Linked DNA regions of Homo sapiens: region 1 is linked to region 2. Evidence: fine-mapped expression QTL. A gene starts in region 2. The other region holds a variant in brackets. All regions are shown on one strand. Distances are from middle to middle. Region 1 has its middle 25 kb from the start of CAMSAP3. Region 2 holds the start of CAMSAP3 (calmodulin regulated spectrin associated protein family member 3).

What was found.
Region 1: its variant is fine-mapped to the expression of CAMSAP3 in unexposed skin (GTEx, PIP above 0.99).

What each region holds. Positions count from the first base shown.
Region 1 is chr19:7,565,145-7,575,620 of GRCh38, forward strand. No RefSeq gene overlaps it. Among named protein-coding and RNA genes, the nearest start is that of CAMSAP3, 25 kb to the right of the region's middle. The variant A/G (reference allele first, on the strand shown) is at 5,826.
Region 2 is chr19:7,590,072-7,600,547 of GRCh38, forward strand. It overlaps CAMSAP3 (calmodulin regulated spectrin associated protein family member 3), which reads left to right and starts at 5,792. Exons shown (of 17, transcript NM_020902.2): 1 at 5,792-6,079. The coding sequence starts at 5,932. RefSeq lists silencers at 3,228-3,428, 5,492-5,931 and an enhancer at 6,771-7,376.

The sequences.
Region 1 (10,476 bases), 25 kb before region 2:
CCCAGCTACTTGGGAGGCTGAGGCAGGAGGATTGCTTGAGCCCAGGAGTTTGAGACCAGCCTGGGAAACATAGCAAGACCTCATCTCTAAAAAACTTTTTAAAATCAGCTGAGCATAGTGGCATGCACCTGTAGTCTCGGCTATTTGCGAGGTCGAAGCAGGAGAATCGCTTGAGCCCAAGAATTCGAGGCTGCAGTGAGCTATGATTTCACCACTGCACTCCAGCCTGGGCGACAGAGTGAGACTGTCTCTAAAACAAAAGTAGTCACTATCTGGAATGTTTTGGGTCACTGTGACTGAGGAAAGACATCTCTGGAAGGCCTCATACCCATCATTAAATACTCTGGTCCAGAAATGATGCAATACTTTTATCTCACTGCTCATTGGCTAGAAAAAGTCACATGGTCCTACCCAACTGTAAGTGGCCAGGAAAAAACAGCCCTACCATGTGCCCAGAAGAGAGAGCATTGGAAATATTTGGTGATCATCACTAATGATCAACAGGCTGGGCTGCAGTAGCTCACGCCTGTAATCCAAGCACTTTGAGAGGCCGAGGCGAGTGGATTGCTTGAGCTCAGTAGTTCGACATCAGCCTGGGCAACATGGCAAAACCCCATCTCTATCAGAAATACAAAAAATTAGCCAGGCATGGTGGTGTGAGCCCGAAATCCCAGATCCTAGGGAGGCTGAGGTAGGAGGATCACTTGAGCCAAGGGAGGTCTAGGCTGCAGTGAGCCATGATCATGCCACTGCACTCCAGCCTGGGCAATAGGGCGAGACCCTGTCTCAAAAAATTAAAATAAAAACAAACAAAAAACAAACTATTGACTAACAGAGTTGGAACTGAGCCTCAACTGGACCTTCCTGGACTCTCTAGGCTACCCCTCTCTGGTTCCAGAGCTTGAGACTCAGCTAGCGCCAAGAAATTTTGAGGTTACAGTGAGGACCTGGGTTCAGGGTCAGGGGCCCTGTCCTGCAATCCACAGGAGCTGGCCACGAGGTGTGGACCCAAGAGACTGATAAAGTCACATTCTCAAGAGTGTTTTCTTGGTCTCTCTCTCTCTGTCTCTCTCTGTCTCTCTCTGTCTGTCTCTCTGTCTCTCTCTCCCCCTCTCCCTCTCCCTCTCCTCTTTTTCTTTCTTTCTTTGACAGAGTCTCTATCTGTCACCCAGGCTGGAGTGCAGTTGTGTGATCTCGCCTTAGCGCAACCTCCACCTCCTGGGCTCAAGTGATTCTCCCACCTCAGCTTCCTGAATAGCTGAGATTATAGGTGCATGCCACCATGCCCAGCTAATTTTCTTTTTAATTCTTAGTAGAGATGGGGTTTTGCCATGTTGGCCAAGCTGATCTTGAACTCCTGACCTCAAGAAATCTGCCTGCCTTGGCCTCCCAAAATGCTGGGATTACAGGCATGAGCCACCGCACCCAGCCTCTTGGTGTGTTTGTTGCCCAGTGTCTGGAAATGGCCATGTAGAGGTTGGACAGGGAAGAACCAACCTGGTCAGGCTGTAGGACATCTTTTGGCCACCCAGGCCAAGTGCAGTGGCTCATACTTGTAATCCCAACACTTTGGGAGGCCAAAGCAGGAGGATCGCTTGAGGCCAGGGGTTCAAGACCAGCCTGGGTGACATAGTGAGACTCTGACTCTATGAAAAATATTAAAAGTAGCTGAGTGTGAGGGTGGGCTTCTGTAGTCCCAGCTACTTGGGAAGCTGAAGTTAGAAGATCGCTTGAGCCCAGGAGTTAGAGGCTGCAGTGAGCTATAATTGCACCACTGCACTCCAGCCTGGGCAACAGAGTAAAACCTTTTATAAAAATAATATTAATAATAAGTTTAGGCCAGGCACAGTGGCTCATGCCTGTAATCTCAGTACTTTGGGAGGCCAAGGCAGGTAGGTCACTTGATGCCAGGAGTTGGAGACCAGCCTGGCCAACATGGTGAAACCCCTTCTCTACTAAAAATACAAAATAGCTGGATGTGGTGGTGCGTGCCTGTAATCCCAGCTTCTTGCGAGGCTGAGGCACGAGAATTGCTTGAACCTGGGAGGCAGAGATTACAATGAGCCGAGATCATGCCACTACGCTCCAGCCTGGGTGACAGAATAAGCCTCTATCTCAAAAAATAAATAAACAAATTAAAAAAAATAAGAGGCTGGGCATGGCGGCTCACACCTGTAATCCCAGCACTTTGGGAGGCTAAGGCAGGAGGATTGCTTGAGCCCAGGAGTTTGAGGCTGCAGTGATCTATTATCACACCACTACACTCCAGCCTGGGTGACAGAGCAAGACCCTATCTCTGAAACAAAAATAATAACAAAAAAAGCAAAAAACAGGGAATTTTCCTTTCCTTCTTTATTGCCAGAAAGGAAAAAAAAAATCAGGGTCCTACATTTGCACAGATTGGCAGGTTCTGCCCATTGCTAGCCAGCTGACCTTGGGCTTCCCTTCCCCCATTCTCAAATTTGTCACCTGTGTATTCTACCTAATTTTAGTCCCAGTGGGTTGCTTTGTAATTTATCTTTATTTTTATTTTTTTGAGATGGAGTTTTGTTCTTGTTGCCCAGGCTTGAGTGCAATGGCATGATCTTGGCTCACCACAACCTCCGTCTCAGCTCACCGCAACCTCTGCCTCTGGAGTTAAAGCGATTCTCCTGCCTCAGCCTCCCGAGTAGCAGGGATTGCAGGCATGTGCCGCCACACTTGGCTAATTTTGTATTTTTAGTAGAGACAGGGTTTCTACATGTTGGTGAGGCTGGTCTTGAACTCCCGACCTCAGACGATCTTCCCACTTTGGCCTCCCAAACTGCTGGGATTACAGGCGTGAGCCACCATGCCCGACCTGTGATCTAAATAAAAGGAAACAGGCTGGGCGTGGTGGCTCACACCTGTAATCCCAGCACTTTGGGGGGCCAAAGTGGGAGGATCGCTTGACGTCAGGAGTTCGAAACCAGCCTGGGTAACATAGTGAGACCCCCCCCCCCGTCTCTAATAAAGAATAATACATTAATAAAATAAAATAGGCCAGGCACGGTGGCTCACGCCTGTAATCCCAGCACTTCGAGAGGCCAAGACGGGTGGGATCACCTGAGGTCAGGAGTTCGAGACCAGCCTGGCCAACATGGTGAAACCCCGTCTTTACTAAAAATACAAAAATTAGCTGGGCGTGGAGACGCACGCCTGTAATCCCAGCTACTCAGGAGGCTGAGGCAGGAGAATCGCTCGAACCCAGGAGGCAGAGGTTGCAGTGAGCTAAGATCGTGCCACTGCGCTCCAGCCTGGGCGACAGAGCAGGACACCGTCTCAAAAAAATTAATAATAAAATAAAACTAAGATAAAACAAAACAGAGCTCCTTGCAGGAGGAAACTGACGCACACACCTACCTGGACCAGATTCTTACTTTTCTGCCACCAGGGGGCGGTCCTGCTATGGCGTTCAGGCGTCTGGCTCCGGGGTGGAGCTTTGCTGACTAGGGGAGGGTTAAGCACCGAGTAGCTGTGGGCTGACTTACTGCTTTTTTTTTTTTTTTTTTTGTCGTTTAGAATTAACATTTATTGGAAAGGAGGGGAGGGGAGGGAGTACTGTTCTCATTATAAAATCATTACCTGTGTGCTTCAGCCAGGTGCAGTGGCTCATGCCTGTAATCCCAGCACTTTGGGAGGCTGAGGCAGGTGGATCACTTGAGGTCAGGAGTTCGAGACCAGCCTGGACAAGAAGATGAAACCCCGTATCTACTAAAAATACAAAAAATTTAGCCGGGCGTGGTGGTGGTCGCCTGTAATCCCAGCTACTCGGGAGGCTGAGGCAGGAGAATCACTTGAACCCAGGAGGTGGAGGTTGCAGTGATCTGAGATCACACCACTGCACTCCAGCCTGGGCAACAGAGTGAGACTCCATCTCAAACAAACAAACCCACAAACAAATTATTACTTGTGTGCTTAGAACAAATTTATAAAACAAATGCAACATAAACATAAAGGTAATATGTGTTCATTTGGAAATATATGTTCATGGAAAGCAGAGTGTAAAAAAAGAAAAGGTCACAGGAATTCCACCGCCTGGATGTGAACACTGCTAATACTCCCTTCTTTTTTCCCAATTTCCTTCCTTTTGTTTTGTTTTGTTCTGTTTTGTTTTTTGAGATGAAGTCTCACTCTGTCGCCCAGGCTGGTGTGCAGTGGTTTGATCTCGGCTCACTGCAACCTCCGCCTCCCGGGTTCAAGCGATTCTCCTGTCTCAGTCTCCTGAGTAGCTGGGATTACAGGCATAAGCCACCATGCCCAGCTAATTTTTGTATTTTTAGTAGAGATGGGGTTTCACCATGTTGGCCAGCTGGTCTTGAACTCCTGACCTCAGGTGATCTGCCCACCTTAGCCTCCCAAAGCAATGGGATTACAGGCGTGAGCCCCAGTGCCTGGCCCAGAGTCAGTTTTTTATTCTGCAATCAATTTAAATGTCCTAGATTTGCTTTTATTGCAAGTCAGTGCCTTGAAAGAAAAGATGAGAGCGTTTGATGACATGAAAACATGCTTAACAAAGACAGAAGACAAACAAAGCCAATAGCCTGGAAGGAAATATTTGTCACATAAATTAGGCAGATGATCGAGCTTTGTTCATGTTTATTGAACACTTACTATTATATATACCAGCCATTGTTTGGGGGGGGTTGTATTTATCAAATAACTTAATTTTTAGCCCTTTGATATAGGTAGTATTATTATTTCCTTTTTTATCTTTTTGGTGTTTTTGTTGGTGTTCTTGCTGTTTTTGAGAATGGGTACCGCTCTGTCGCCCAGGCTGGAGTGCTATTGGGCAATCATATCTCACAGCAGCCTCGACCTCCTGGGCTCAAGCAATCCTCCCACCTCAGCCTCCCCAGTAGCTGAGACTACAGGCCCCTGTCACCACACCTGACTAATTTGTTTTATTTTTTCAAAGTGAGATGGCGGAGGCGGGTGGGGGGTCTCACTTTGTTGCCCAGGCCGGCCTCGAACTCCTGGGCTCCAGCGATCCTCCTGCCTCAGCTTCCCAAAGTGCTGGGATTACAGGTGTGAGCCACCATGCCCGGCCAGTTTTCACTTCTTAATTTGGCAAATGCTAAAAATATTAACACATCCAGTCACACTGAAAGTTGGGTGAATAAGAAACATCTTCACAGTGTTAGGCTGGGAAACTGTCAATTATGGAGATTTTAGGGGGAAGGGAATTTGACTGTCATCATGCAACAAATTTTTTTTTTTTTTTTTTTGAGACGGAGTCTCGCTCTGTCGCCCAGGCTGGAGTGCAGTGGCGTGATCTCGGCTCACTGCAAGCTCCGCCTCCTGGGTTCATGCCCTTCTCCTGCCTCAGCCTCCCAAGGAGCTGGGACTACAGGCGCCCGCCGCCACGCCCGGCTAATTTTTTGTATTTTGAGTAGAGACGGGGTTTCACCATGTTAACCAGGATGGTCTCGATCTCCTGACCTTGTGATCCGCCCGCCTTGGCCTCCCAGTAAACAACAAATATAAAGCGCATAACTTTTGACCTAGCCGGGTTTCGTCCAACAATCAATCCTCTATAAACGCATGCGTCTAAAGATGTGTGTTCCTCACAGCGCTTTTCTGCAATGATGCCGTTGCTTATAAAAGTGAAAATTGGAAAACAGTCTCAGTGACTGACAACAGAGGCATAGTTTAATAAATTAGGGCACAGTACCTTACGGGAATGCTCTGAAGCCATTAACAAGAATGAAACAGACTTATAGCTATTGACATAAAAAAAATTCCTAGGTACTCTGCTCCACGGATAAAAAGAGTCATAGAACATTGTGTACAGTATGATCACATTT[A/G]CGTCCAAGACCGTCCATGACACACAGGTTTGTACATGCACGGGATGCCCTGGGAGGATAGTTCCTTGGGAAGAAATATCAGGGTGGGAATTTAAGGGGGAGAATTTCAATATTTTTACTTTTCTACTGTTTGACACTTTAACAATGAGATTGCATTATTGTGATAATTTTTAAATTTATTTGATAATTTTTAAAGCCCCCAGAAATGATCCTGTTTTGAAATTGTTAAATATTTCTTTTTGTTTTACTTATTTATTTATTTTCGAGACAGGGTCTCATCCCATCACCCAGGCTGTAGTGCAGTGGCACTGTCTCAGCTCACTGCAGCCTCTGCCTCCTGGGTTCAAGTGATCCTCCCACCTCAGCCTCCCAAGTAGCTGGGACTACAGGGCATGTACCACCATGCCTAGCTAATTTTTTTATTTTTAGTAGAGGTGAGGTCTCCCTATGTTGCCCAGGATCGTCTCAAACTCCTTGGCTCAAGCAATCTGCCTGCCTTGGCCTTTCGAAGTGCTAGGATTACGGGCATGAGCCACCTTGCCTGGCTCTTTTTAAATTTTATTATTTTTTATTTTACAAAAGTAGAGACAGGGTCTCACTGTTCTGCCCAGGCTGGTGTTGAACTCCTGGGCTCAAGTGGCTGGCCCACCTCCACCTCCCAGAGTGTTGGGATCACGGGCTTGAGCCATCGCACCTGGCCTAAATATTTCTTTAAAATGACAGAAAGCCGGGCATGGTGGCTCACTCCTGTAATCCCAGCACTCTGGGAGGCCGAGGCAGGCGGATTACCTGAGGTCAGGAGTTCCAGACCAGCCTGGTCAACATGGCAAAACCCCATCTCTACTAAAAATACAAAAATTAGTCCCAGCTACTTGGGAGGCTGAGGCAGGAGAATCGCTTGAACCCGGGAGGTGGAAGTTGCAGTGAGTCGACATCGCACTACTGCACTCCAGCCTGGACGACAGAGCAAGACTCTGTCTCAAAAAACAATAACAAAAACAAAACAGAAAATAAAACATAACAGAAGACAGGCAGAGCAACAGTCTGGGAGGAAATATTTGTCACATCAATTAGGCAGAATATCAAGCATTGTTCATGTTTATTGAACACTTATTGTATACCAGCCACTGTTTTGAGGCGGGGGGGGGTTATGGTTATATTTATCAAGTAACTTAATCCTGTGATCATGGTTGTTTCTGACATTTCAGTGTTATGAATGAAACCGGGATGAATATCTTTTTTTTTTTTTTTGAGATGGAGTTTCACTCTTATTGCTGGAGTGTAAAGGCACGATCTCAGCTCACTGCAACCTCCATCTCCCGGGTTCAAGCAATTCTCCTGCCTCAGCCTCCTGAGTAGCTGGGATTACAGGCATGCGCCACCACGCCTGGTAAATTTTGTATTTTTAGTAGAGACAGGGTTTCTCCATGTTGGCCAGGCTGGCTCGAGCTCCCAACCTCAGGTGATCCACCCGCCTTGGCCTCCCAAAGTGCTGGGATTACAGGCATGAGCCACGGCGCCCGGCGAGGGGATGAATATGTACGAATCTTCACGTGCATCTGTGAGGATATCTTTATGTTATCTCTAATTTTTGTGTTTGGTTTATTTCAGAGTTGGGATCTCACTATGTTGCCCAGGCTGGTCTTAAACTGGACGATTCTCCGGCCTCAGTCTCTCAAAGCGCTGGGATTACTGACAAGCCACTGCCCCAGTCCTGCTTAGTTTTCTTTACATTACAAAGCAAACTTTTGTGTCAGGGACTAAAATCAGGTAGAATACAAAGATGGTAAAACAGTCTGGGAGAGCTTAAACCCGAGGCCATCTAGCTGGCAAGCGGCAGAACTTGCCACTCTGTGCACGTTCAAGTCCCTGTTCTTTTGTTTGTTTCTTGTTTTTTTTTTAGAGACAGGTTCTCTCTCTGTCGCCCAGCTGGGAGGGAGTGCACAGGCATGATCATAGCTCAGTGCAGTCTCCACCTCCTAGGCTCAATCGATCCTCCCACCTCTGCCTCCCAAGTAGGTGGGACTAGAGGCATGCGACACCATGCCTAGCTCATTTTTAATTTTTTTTTTATAAAGACGGAGTCACGGCTGGGCACAGCAGCTCATGTCTCTAATCCCAGAACTTTGGGAGGCTGAAACCAGCAGATCACGAGGTCAGGAGTTCAAGACCAGCCTGGCCAACATAGTGAAACCCCGTCCTACTAAAAATTCAAAAATTAGCCAGGAGTGGTGGCAGGTGCCTGTAATTCCAGCTACTCAGGAATGCTGAGGCAGGAGAATCACTTGAACTCTGGAGGCAGCGGTTGCAGTGAGCTGAGATCATGCCACTGCACTCCAGCCTGGGGCAACAGAGTGAGACTTAGTCCTAAAAAAAAAAAAAAAAAAAAAAAAAAAAAGCCAGGCATGGTGACTCACACCTATAATCCTAGCCCTTTGGGAGGCTGAGGTGGGTGGATCACCTGAGGTTGGGAGTTCGGGACCAGCCTGGCCAACATGGAGAAACCCTGTCTGTACTAAAAATACAAAAATTAGATGGGCGTGATGGCGCATGCCTGTAATCCCATTTACTCAGGAGGCTGAGGCAGGAGAATCGCTTGAACCCAGGAGGTGGAGGTTGTGATAAGCTGAGATGGCGCCACTGAACTCCAGCCTGGTCAACAAGAGCCAAACTCCATCTCAAAAAAAAAAAAAGATATTGATTTTTAAATTTTTCAATTCCCAATTATTCATTGTTATCGTGTAGAAATACAGTTTAGTTTTATATATAGACCTTGTATTCTACAACTTCACTAAATCACTTACTGGATCTAGTAGGTTTTTTGTACATTCATTCTGATTTTTTGTGTAGATGATGTTTTATTTTTCTTTCTTTTCATATATGTTCGCTATCATCTTTCTCTTCTTTCCAAGTCTGTGTGCTTTTTATTTCATTTCCTACCTTATTGCACTGTCTGGGACTTCCAATACAATACTGAATAGAGGTAGTAAGAACAGACATCCTTGGCCAGGCATGGTGGCTCACGCCTGTAATCTCAGCACTTTGGGAGGCCAAGGTGGGCGGATCACCTGAGGTCAGGAGTTCGAGACCGGCCTGGCCAACAATGCGGAACCCCGTCTCTACTAAAAATACAAAAATTAGCTGGGTGTGGTGGCATGTGCCTGTAATCCCAGCTACTTGGCAGCCTGAGTTGGGAGAATCGTTTGAACCTGGAAGGCAGAGGTTGCAGTGAGATGAGATCGTGCCACTGCACTCCAGCCTGAGGGACAAAGCAACAACACCCTGTCTCAAAAAACAAAACAAAAACCAGGCTGGGCGCGGTGGCTCTCGCCTGTAATCCCAGCACTTTGGGAGGCCGAGGTGGGCAGATCACGAGGTCAGGAGATCGAGATCATCCTGGCCAACATGGTGAAACCCCGTCTCAACTAAAATACAAAAAAAAAAAAAAGAAGCCAGGCAAGGTGGCACGCGCCTGTAATCCCAGCTACTCAGGAGGCTCAGGCAGGGGAATTGCTTGAACCTGGGAGGCAGAGGTTGCAGTGAGCTGAGATCGCGCCACTGCACTCCAGCATGGCGACAGAGAGACTGTCTCAAAAAAAAAACAAAACAAAACAAAACTGGACATCCTTACCTTGTTTCCAATCTTAGGATAAAACATTGAGTCTTACTATTAAGTATGATATTAGCCATGTTTCATGTATTTCTTTGTTTAATCTCTTAATTTGGCAATTCCATTGATTGATTTTATTTTATTTTATTTATTTTTTTGAGACAAGGTCTCCCTCTTATCCCCCAGGCTGGAGTGCACTGGCGCGATCTCAGCTCACTGCAACCTCCGCCTCCCGGGTTCAAGCGATTCTCCTGCCTTGGTCCCCCGAGTAGCTGGGATTGCAGGTGCCTGCCACCACACGCAGCTAATTTTTTTATTTTTAGTTGAGACGGGGTTTCACCATGTTGGCCAGGCTGGTCTCGAACTCCTGACCTCAGGTGATCCACCTGCCTCAGCCTCCTAAAGTGCTGGGATTACAGGCATGAGCCATCACACCCGGCCACTTTTTTTTTTTTTTTTTAAACAGAGTCTCTCTCTGAGCCACCTTGCCCAGTCCCATTGATTGATTTTCAAATGCCGAACCCACCTTGTATCCCTCGGACAAATTCCACTTGATCAGGACATGTTTTCCTCTTTATATACTCCTGGACTCAATTTGCTAATATTTTGTGATGGATTGTTTGTATCGATGTTCCTGAAGAATATTGGTCTGTACTTTTCTTTCCGGGCATGGTGGCAGGTGCCTGCAATCCCAGCTACTCAGGAGGCTGAGGCAGGAGAATCGCTTGAACCAGGGAGGTGGAGGTTTGCAGTGAGCCAAGGTTGTGCCATTGCACTCCAGCCTGGGTGACAAGAGCAAGACTCCATCTCAAAATAAAATAAAGGCGTAGTGGTTTTGCATTTTGAGGAACTTGTCTATGTCAGGTAAATTGTCAAATTTATTGCCACAGAGTTGTTCATAAAATTTCCTCATTATCCTTTTAATGTCCATAGGGACTGTAGTGATATCCCCTCTTTTACCTCAGTGTGCAAATGCTTTTCAAGCCTCTGCTTCTCTCACATTTTCTATTGTCCCATTGGCCAAAATAAGTCATATGGCCA
Region 2 (10,476 bases):
ATTAATGAGACGATGTCGGGCATATAACACTCTCAGAAATTGTCATCTATGAGTCTGATCCCTGAAGTGCACACACAGGTAGAATTTTGCAGATGATTTTATGGGGTTTCACATACTCCCCCAAACCAAATCCTGAACTCCTGACCTATAAACCCTCTAAGTCATCCCCACCCCCAGCTTAATAACCAGGCTCTGTCTAATGAGTTAGGAGGTGTAAGAGCCCAAAGAGCTCCAGGTGTGGGAGGAGGCGGGAGGCTGGAGGGGGGCTCGGGGAGGGGCTGCCCCATGCACACAGGGCAGCCAGTGTGTCTGAGGCTGCCTAGGCCGTAGGAACAGGCCCCCAGGGGCAGGTGGGATCTTGATTCCAGCCTGCAGTGTGTGGGTGGGGCAGTCTAGACCAGCCAGGCTTTCCAGTCCGCCCAGTGTGGGGGTTGGGCCAGTGGAGGCCCCTGGAGGCAGGGACAGGAGCACTTGACCTGCACCAACACCTCTGGACCTGGACGGCCCCCCACCCATCCTTCCCAAACTGCAGCCCCCTCCCGGGATGGGAAGCTGAACCCGTGTATCCACCCCACATCTCCCCGGATTGTGTGTGAGCATGCTGCATTTGCTGCCTTTGCTGGGTTTGTCCTTGGGGTCCACGGAGGTCATGGGAACCATCCCAGGAAAAGCAAACCCACGTGTGAGCCGGCAGGACACGCCAAGCTCACAGAGGGGCAGGTTATGGCAGAAGCACCCTTTCCTGCTGGAAATGCTTCCCCGGGCCAGGAACCCCAGGTCTCCAGATGGGGAAACTGAGGTCCAGTGGGGAAAAGACCTTGTTTAGGTCCTTCGAGGGGACTGGGACAGGAGCCGGGGCATGCGTCATCCACATCAGCACCTGTGCTCACACACACAGACACTGGCCCCTTTGCGCACCCACACCCACTCCTGCACGGGCACATCCAGACAGGAGGGCCCACGCCCCAGCTCCCCTCCCTCGGCACACCCACCCCCATGCCTGCTCACATGCTCCGGACCATGAGACCCACGCCCCAAACACACGTGCCATTTCAACAAAGAGCTAGCTCTGGGGCCACCATCCGGGGTCAAGGGTCTTGGAGACCACCTTGCCACAGCGTCTTTCCATTTCATAGCGTTTTGTTTTTGTTTTTTTTTATGAGACGGAGTTTTTTTGCTCTCATTGCCCAGGCTGGAGTGCAATGGTGCGATTTTGGCTCACCGCAACCTCCACCTCCCAGGTTCAAGCGATTCTCCTGCCTCAGCCTCCTGAATAGCTGGGATTACAGGCATGCGACACCATGCCTGGCTAATTTTGTGTTTTTAGTAGAGATGGGGTTTCTCAATGTTGGTCAGGTTGGTCTTGAACTCCAGACCTCAGGTGATCTGCCCACCTTGGCCTCCCAAAGTGTTGGAATTTATTTATTTATTTATTTATTTATTTTTTTTTTTGAGACGGAGTTTCGCTCTTGTTGCCCAGGCTGGAGTGCAGTGGTGCAATCTCAGCTCACCGCAATCTCTGCCTTCTGGTTTCAAGCAATTCTCCTGCCTCAGCCCCCCAAGTAGCTGGGATTACAGGCATGCACCACCACCTCTGGCTAATTTTTTTTTTATTTTTAGTAGAGATGGGTTTCTCCATGTTGGTCAGGCTGGTCTTGAACTCCGGACCTCAGGTGATCCGCCCACCTCAGCCTCCCAAGGTGCTGGGATTACAGGCGTGAGCCACTGGGCCCGGTCTTTTTTTTTTTTTTTTCTTTTTGAGATGGAGTCCTGCTCTTTCGCCCAGGCTAAAGTGCAGTGGCACGATCTCAGCTCACTGCAACCTCTGCCTCCTGGGTTCAAGCAATTCTTCTGCCTCAGCCTCCTGAGTAGCTGGGATCACAGGCGCCAGCCACCACACACAGGGAATTTTTGTATTTTTAGTAGAGATGGGGTTTCACAATGTTGGCCAGGCTGGTCTCGAATTCCTGACCTCAGGTGATGCACCTGCCTCAGCCTCCCAAAGTGCTGGGATTACAGGAGTGAGCCACTGTGCCCGGCCTGTATGTTATCTTTTTACGTATCACTTTCTGAGTGCATTTGTGTGCATGAAGCTGACATTTACATTTGTGTGAATTTGTGAATATTTGTGTGAGTCTGTGAGCACTTATTCCTGTTCACAAGGTGACAAGGTGCCTATGTATGTGTGTGTGTGTGTGTGTGTTCTGAAAGTAACACACGTTTTTCTTTTCTTTTTTTTTTTTTTTTGAGACAGAGTCTGGCTCTGTCACCCAGGCTGGAGTGCAGTGGCAAGATCTCAGCTCACTTCAACCTCTGCCTCCTGGGTTCAAGCGCTTCTCCTGCCTCAGCCTCCCAAGTAGCTGGGATTACAGGCATGTGCCACCATGCCTGGCTAATTTTTGTATTTTTAGTAGAGACAGGGTTTCACCATGTTGGTCAGGCTGGTCTTGAACTCCTGACTTCAAGTGATCCACCTGCCTCGGCCTCCCAAAGTGCTGGGATTACAGGCTTCAGCCACCGTGCCTGGCCGAAAGTAACACACTTTTCTTTCCAGGCCTGTAAAGAACGAACTCACACAAACACTTGTGCATTCACAATTATATACAGCTAAGAGGCATGCAGGGGATATTTTGACAAAAATACAATGGAGGGCCAAGCACAGTGGCACATGCCTGTAATCCCAGCACTTTGGGAGGCCGAGGTGGGAGGATCCCTTGAGCCTAGGAGTTTGAGATCAGCCTGGGCAATATAAGGAGATCCCATCTCTACACAAAACAAAAAATTAGCCAGGGATGGTGGCTGCAGTGAGCCATGATTGTGCCACTGCACTCAAGCCTGGGGTGACAGAGTGAGATCCTGTCCAAAAAAAAAATAAAACAACAACAACAAAACAAACAATAGAACAAAAGCAAATATTAAAATATTAAAAACATCCGGCTGGGCGCGGTGGCTCATGCCTGTAATCCCAGCACTTTGGGAGGCCGAGGCGGGTGGATCACCTGAGGTCAGGAGATCAAGACCATCCTGACTAACACAATGAAACCCCGTCTCTACTAAAAATACAAAATATTAGCTGGGCATGGTGGCCGGCGCCTGTAGTTCCAGCTACTGGGGAGGCTAAGGCAGGAGAATGGCGCGAACCCGGGAGGCGGAGCTTGCAGTGAGCTAAGATTGCACCACTGCACTCCAGCCTGGGTGACAGAGCGAGACTCGGTCTCAAAAAAAAAAAAAAAAACAAACAGAAAAAAAAAAACCAAAAATCCACAAATCGGTGCTTAGACCTTACAAATAAACACACAATTGCACTCATGTACACAAATATTTGTACTCAACGCGTTCACACACACTTCCATACTTACAGACACAATCAGATTCATACACAGAAATACATTTGCTTACACAGATATGAATTCCTAGATAAATATGCACATTTGAACTCTCACAAAAGCATTCAGACACAGGCATTCTTTTTTTTTTTTTTAATGTGACGGAGTCTCACTCTGTCGCCCATGCTGGAGTACAGTGGTGCAATCCTAGCTTGCTGCAACCTCTGCCTCCTGGGTTCAAGCGATTCTCCTGCCTCAGCCTCCCAAGTAGCTGCAATTATAGGTGTGGGCAACCACGCCCGGCTAACTTTTGTATTTTTAGTAGAGATGGGGTTTCACCATGTTGGCCAGGCTGGTTTTGAACTCCTGACCTCAGGTGATCCACCCGCCTCAGCCTCCCAAAGCACTGGGATTACAGGCATGAGCCACTGCACCCAGCAGAAACAGGCATTCTTGCACAGGTATACCTGCTTTCATGCCTACACAATCTGTCACAGGCACCCACCATATATTCAAATCCACAAAGATACTCACATATAAACACACATATATGCACAAAAATATAGTCAGGAACTGCTCATCATAAATCACACATCTGCTGGGCGCGGTGCCTCAAGCCTGTAATCCCAGCACTTCAGGAGGCCGAGTTGGGCGGATCACGAGGTCAGGAGATCGAGACCATCCTGGCTAACATGGTGAAACCCGGTCTCTACTTAAAAAAAAATACAAAAAACCAGCCGGGCGTGGTGGCGGGTGCCTGTAGTCCCAGCTACTCGGGAGGCTGAGGCAGGAGAATGGCATGAACCCAGGAGGCAGAGCTTGCAGTGAGCCAAGATCGCACCACTGCACTCCAGCCTGAGCGATAGAGCGAGACTCCGTCTCAAAAAATCAATCAATCAATCAATCACACATCCATGTGCATATAGCCAGATTCACATACTCAAATACAAACCCACTTAGACACACAGCCTCACCTCCACACAGAGCCTTCTCCCAGCACACACTGCAGATACCAGAATAATACACAAAGACACTTGCAAATACACCCAGTACAGCTACGCAAGGACACTCATAGACACAAATAGTCACACTCTTGCAGAAATATACACACTTTTTTTTTTTTTTTGAGACAGGGTCTCACTCTGTTGGCCAAGCTGGAGTGCAGTGGCACTATCTCAGCTTCTGCCTCCCTGGTTCAAGCGATTCTCCCGCCTCAGCCTCCCGAGTACTTGGGATTACAGGCATGCACCATTATGCCCGGCTAATTTTTAAAAATTTTATTTTTAGTAGAGACGGGGTTTTGCTATGTTGGCCAGGCTACTCTTGAACTCCTGGCCTCAAGTGATCTGCCCGCCTTGGCCTCCCAAAGTGCTGGGATTACACTCGTGGCCACCGCTCTCGGCCTGAAATACACACACTCTCAATGTCTCTCCATACTCCTGCATTGACAGAGGCATCAATAACAGCCTCATACAACACACCAGTACGTTCAGATGCACAGAGATAGACATACTCACAGCACTCCAAAAACACACACACAGCCGGGCACGGTGGCTGCCGCCTGTAATCCCAGCACTTTGGGAGGCTGAGGCGGGTGATCACCTGAGGTCAGGAGTTTGAGACTAGCCTGGCTAACATGGTGAAACCCCAACTCTACTAAAAATACAAAAATTAGCCGGGAGTGGTGGCGCAACCCCGTAATCCCAGCTACTCGGGAGGCTGAGGCAGGAGAATCGCTTGAGCCTGGGAGGCGGAGGTTGCAGTGAGTCGAGATCGCGCCACTGCACTCCAGCCTGGGAGACAGAGTGAGTGAGACCCTGTCTCAAAAACAAAAACAAAAACAAAAACAAAAAACAGACACACACTCATCACTTCCATCCATCCTCAGGATACAGACATCTATATAATACATATCCTTGTACACACAACAAATTAAACACACACTTACACGTGCCCAGATACATACCCCACACACACACACCCCTAGACACCCCCCAATACACTTGGTCACCACCCAAATGTATTCAGAGATACACAGATACGAAGACACTCATATTCTTGTGCCTTCACTAACATAATCAGAAACAGGTGCACCCAACCACTCTCTGCCTGAGGGCCGGCGTTTATTGCAAGCACTTGCAGGAGCTCCTACGCCTAAGGGTAGACACTGGGGCTGGCACACACAGAGGGTCCCTAATCCTTTCCAGTAAGCTAGGCGCGCGCGCACACACTCACACACGCGCGCGCGCACACATACACACTCAGTCCTCCGCAAGCTCCCTCCACCATCGCCGCAGTCCAGGCCGCCCCCCTCCGCCCCGCCCCTGCTGCTCCGTGCACACTGCAGTGAGGGGCCCGGGCGGGGCGCAGGGGCGCGCCAGGGTCCGGGTCCGGGTTCGGGGGCGGGGCGCACCTGGGCTCCTCCCCGGGGCGGGCCCGACGCAGCGTCGCCAGCGCAAGCGGCCGCACCTGGCTCAGCAGCGGCGGCGGCGGCGGCGGCGGCAGCGGCGGTAGCAGCAGCGGGCCCGGCTGGGGCGCGAGCGCGGCGCAGCCCAGCCCAGCCCAGTCCGAGCGCGGACCCGGCGCCCGCAGCCCCGGCGCCGCCATGGTGGAGGCGGCGCCCCCCGGGCCCGGGCCGCTGCGGAGGACCTTTCTAGTGCCCGAGATCAAGTCGCTGGACCAGTACGATTTCTCGCGGGCCAAGGCGGCGGCCAGCCTGGCGTGGGTGCTGCGGGCCGCGTTCGGGGGCGCAGGTACCGGGGCTCGGGGGACCGGGGTCGGGGGCGGCGGGCCGGGCGCGGCAGGTGCTGGGGGGGGGCGGGGCGCCGGGCCGGGAAGGCAGGGGGCCGTGGGAACAATAGCGCCGGCCGCCGGGGGTCCCCGGGCTCGGGCCCCTGCCGCGCCGGGGCCTCCGAGCTTCCTGCTCGGCCCGGGCGGTGGACTTTGCCCCGCCGGCTGCGGGAGCGCGGTGGGGGTGGGGCCCGCGGCCCAGCTCCGCGCGGGGGTCCCCGGCGTCCAAGCCTCCAGGTGAGCCGGGCGGGGTCTGCGGGCCGGGTGGGGTCTCCCCGTGCGGACCTCTCGTTCCCGCCTCCCGCACCCCCAAGGCCTTCCCTTGCACGCCTTCTTCTCTTTTACACACATCACGCCCCTGCGAGGATCTCCTCTCGGTCTCTTCCCCCGCCACACACCCTGGAGACCCAGACCCCGACCTCGCTGGGGGGTCTCGAGCGCTCCGGTCTCCACCACCGCACGACCCCCAGGCCCCAACACACACCCCGCGTCGGCCCTGGCCGCGCTGCGGGCGGCGACCGGGGAGCTCTGGGAACCCCCTTTCGCCTCCATAGCCCCCTCCAGCGCCTGGCAGCTGCGACTTATGGCCCCATTTTACTGGGGAGGTTGGCGAGCCCAGCTGAAGGGAAATGGGTAGTACAAGATCGCCTGGGGTGGGCCCCCCGCTCCTCCCGGCTGCGGGGCCTTCTCCCATTAGAGCAGATCCTTCACTCCCTCCCCCAGGCCCGCTTGCCTGAGAGCCCGAGCCACCCTAATGGGGAGGATGCCGTAATCCCGGGTCCCCGGGATTAGAGGCCCTGGAAACACTCAGTCTCGGCTTTGGGCAGCTTCACAACCCCAGGCCAGAGCTAGGAGTCAGGGCCTGGCCAGAGAAGACAGGGGTTAATTAAGGTCTGGGCTTTCCAGCGGGGAGCTGTGGGGGTACATCCTTTTCTCCCACTGGTTCTGCCCACTGGTGTTGGCACAGCCCATCCCCCCTCTCCCTGGCCTTCCCAGATCAACCTGTTCTGGGTGTGGGTCTCAGTGACAGCTGTCCGTCTCCTGGTTCCGCCCCAGCCTGTCCCTCTTTCTCCCAGACAGTCTCTGTCTGCGTCGTTCCATGCATGCATTTCCCACTCTGGGGTCTACCTCCCTGCAGATATTTGCTTGAGGAAGAAAGAGATTGGGCATTGGACAGCCAGGACAGCCCCAGCTCCTCACTTCCAAGGTTACCAGGCTGTAGAGAACTCAACGTGGAGTGTCAGAATTGAATGTGAAGTCCAGCTGCACCAGAATGCGAATTATCCCAATTATCTGAGCTTCTGTTTCCCCTTCTATAAAAGAAGGCGTTCATTCACAGACTTATCTGTTTTGCGAATGTTTGTGGGGCAGGGGCACTTGCTATGTGTAGGGCACTGCTCCAGTGATGGAGACCCCCCGTTACCTCTTTGCAAGGTTGCTGGGAGGCGTAAAAGCTGTAGTGACCACAGAATTCTTCGCGTGGCACGGGGCGCGTGATACATGCGAAACGGTTGCTCGCTGCTGGTGTGATTGGCGGTGGTATATTTTGATGAATAATATTAACGTTATCCATTATCCCCTGGCCAGGAATCAGAGTAGAAATTATCCCATTTTGAAGACAGCAAAGCAAACTTCTGATGAGGGGTGTTGGTGAGCTCCCAGTGCCCTGACTCACCCAGTTCTGTTCTTGTTGACCCAGCTCCCTCTGCTGTGTGACACACGGCAGTGGCTGCCTCTACCGTGAGGGTCAAGTTCAATCTGTTCCCTGTTCCACTCCCCTAAAAAGAGGAGAAGGGCTGAAGGAAATGGGAGCAGAGTTCTACAAGATTCATGAGCTCTGGGGACTCTTGACGGTATGATACCTATCAGGTGCTGGGCTGGGCGCTCAGGGTGTAGAGGAGACGGCAGGGGATGGATATGGGGCAGAGGGGGATGGGCAGGAAACCAGATCATAGGGAAGCTGGCCAGCGGGGCCTGGGGAAAGAAATTCTTGAAATCTTCCAGGGAGGGAAGAGATCCCACAGGTGGAAAGATTTGAGTCTGGAAGGATGCATGGAAGTTTGACACGGAGAAGAGATGTGTGGGCAGTGGGCAAAGGCTCGGAGTGTGGACCAGCAGGGAGTTCTCAGAGAATAAGATGCAGGTCCCCGGGGTGGCGGTGGGAGATAAGGGAGGCTGGTCAGACTGAGGAAGGCCCTTCAGGCCCCTGGTTATGGATCCAAGGGTACTGGGGAGCCACGGACAGTGTTGGGAACTGACAAGATCAGGTATGCAGTGGCCCCGTGGGAGTAGTGATGGCTCAGAGGAAGGGATAGTTCTGGCAACTCCAAGGCACAGGTGTGAGAAGGCTGTGCAGAAATAAAAGCAGAACACAAGCTTGGAGATTAGATAAGAAAGGGTTCCAAGCCTGGCCAACACGATGAATCCCCGTCTCTACTAAAAATCCAAAAATTAGCCGGGAATGATGGCACACGTCTGTAGTCCCAGCTACTTGGGAGGCTGAGGCAGGAGAATTGTTGAACCTGTGAGGCGGAGGTTGCAGTGAGCCGAGATTGCACCACTGCACTCCAGCCTGGGTGAAAGAGAGAGACTCTGTCTCAAAAAACAAAGGGTTCCATGTTAAACACATTTGGAAAACACCCCATGCAGTTCTTTATGCCTTCAGAACAGATGTGTGATGTGTGAGGGAAACTCAAGTTCATGTTGGACATTTTTATCCTGGACAAGTTATCTCAGCTCTCCAGGCCTTGGTTTTCTCATCTGTACAAGGGGTATAATAATAAGTGTCGTAAGGATTAAATGACTGGATGCAGGGAAGGTCATGGTATAAATAAATGGTTGGGTGTGGTGGCATGGGCTTGTAGTCCCAGCTACTCAGGAGGCTGAGGCAGGAGGATTGCCTGAGCCCAGGAGTTCCAGGGTACAGTCAGCTATGATCACGCCACTGCACTCCAGCCTGGGCAACAGAGTGAGATCCTGTCTCAATCAGCCTTCCATCCATCCATCCACCCATCCATCTACCCACTCATCCATCCATCCACCCACCCATTCATTCATCCATCCATCCACCCACCCACCTACCCACTGCACTCATCCATCCACCCACCCACCCCACTCATCCATCCACCCACCCCACTCATCCATCCACCCACGCACTCATCCATCCACCCATCCATCCACCCACTCATCCATCCATCCACCCATCCATCCACCCATTCATTCATCCATCCATCCATCCACCCACCTACCCACTGCACTCATCCATCCACCCACCCACCCACCCACCCCACTCATCCATCCACCCACGCACTCATCCATCCACCCATCCATCCACCCACTCATCCATCCTTCCACCCACCCATTCATTCATCCATCCATCCATCCATCCATCCATCCATCCACCCACCCACCTACTCACCGCACTCATCCATCCACCCACCCCACTCATCCATCCACCCACCCACCCACCCCACTCATCCATCCACCCACCCCACTCATCCATCCACCCACGCACTCATCCACCCACACACTCATCCATCCACCCACCCCACTCATCCATCCAACCACGCACTCATCCATCCACCCACTCATCCACCCGCCCATCCATCCACCCGCCCATCCATCCACCCACCCACCCACCCATCCACCCACCCACCTACCCACCCACACACTCTCCCACCCACCCATCCACCTATCCACCCATCCATCCACCCACCCATCCACCCATCCATCCATCCACCCACCCACCAACTCATCCACCTACCCACCCACCCACTCATCCACCCACCCACCCATCCACCCATCCATCCACCCGCCCACTCATCCATCCACCCGCCCACTCATCCATCCACCCGCCCACTCATCCATCCACCCGCCCATCCATCCATCCACCCACCCATCCATCCACCTACCCACACTCCCACCCAGCCATCCACCCACCCACCCTCCCACCCATCCACCCACCCACCCTCCCACCCATCCACCCACCCACCCATCTACCCATCCGTCCGTCCATCCACCCACCCACCCATCTATCCTTCCACCCACCCACCCACCCACTCATCCATCCACCCATCCACCCACCCACTCATCCATCCACCCACCCACCCACTCTCCCACCCTCGCACCCACCCACCAACTCATCCACCCACCCACCCACTCATCCACCCACCCACCCATCCACCCATCCGTCCACCCGCCCACTCATCCATGCACCCGCCGACTCATCCATCCACCCGCCCATCCATCCATCCACCCACCCACCCACCCCCTCATCCATCCACCCACCCTCCCACCGTCCCACCCATCCACCTATCCACCCATCCACCCACCCACTCGTCTACCCATCCATCCATCCACC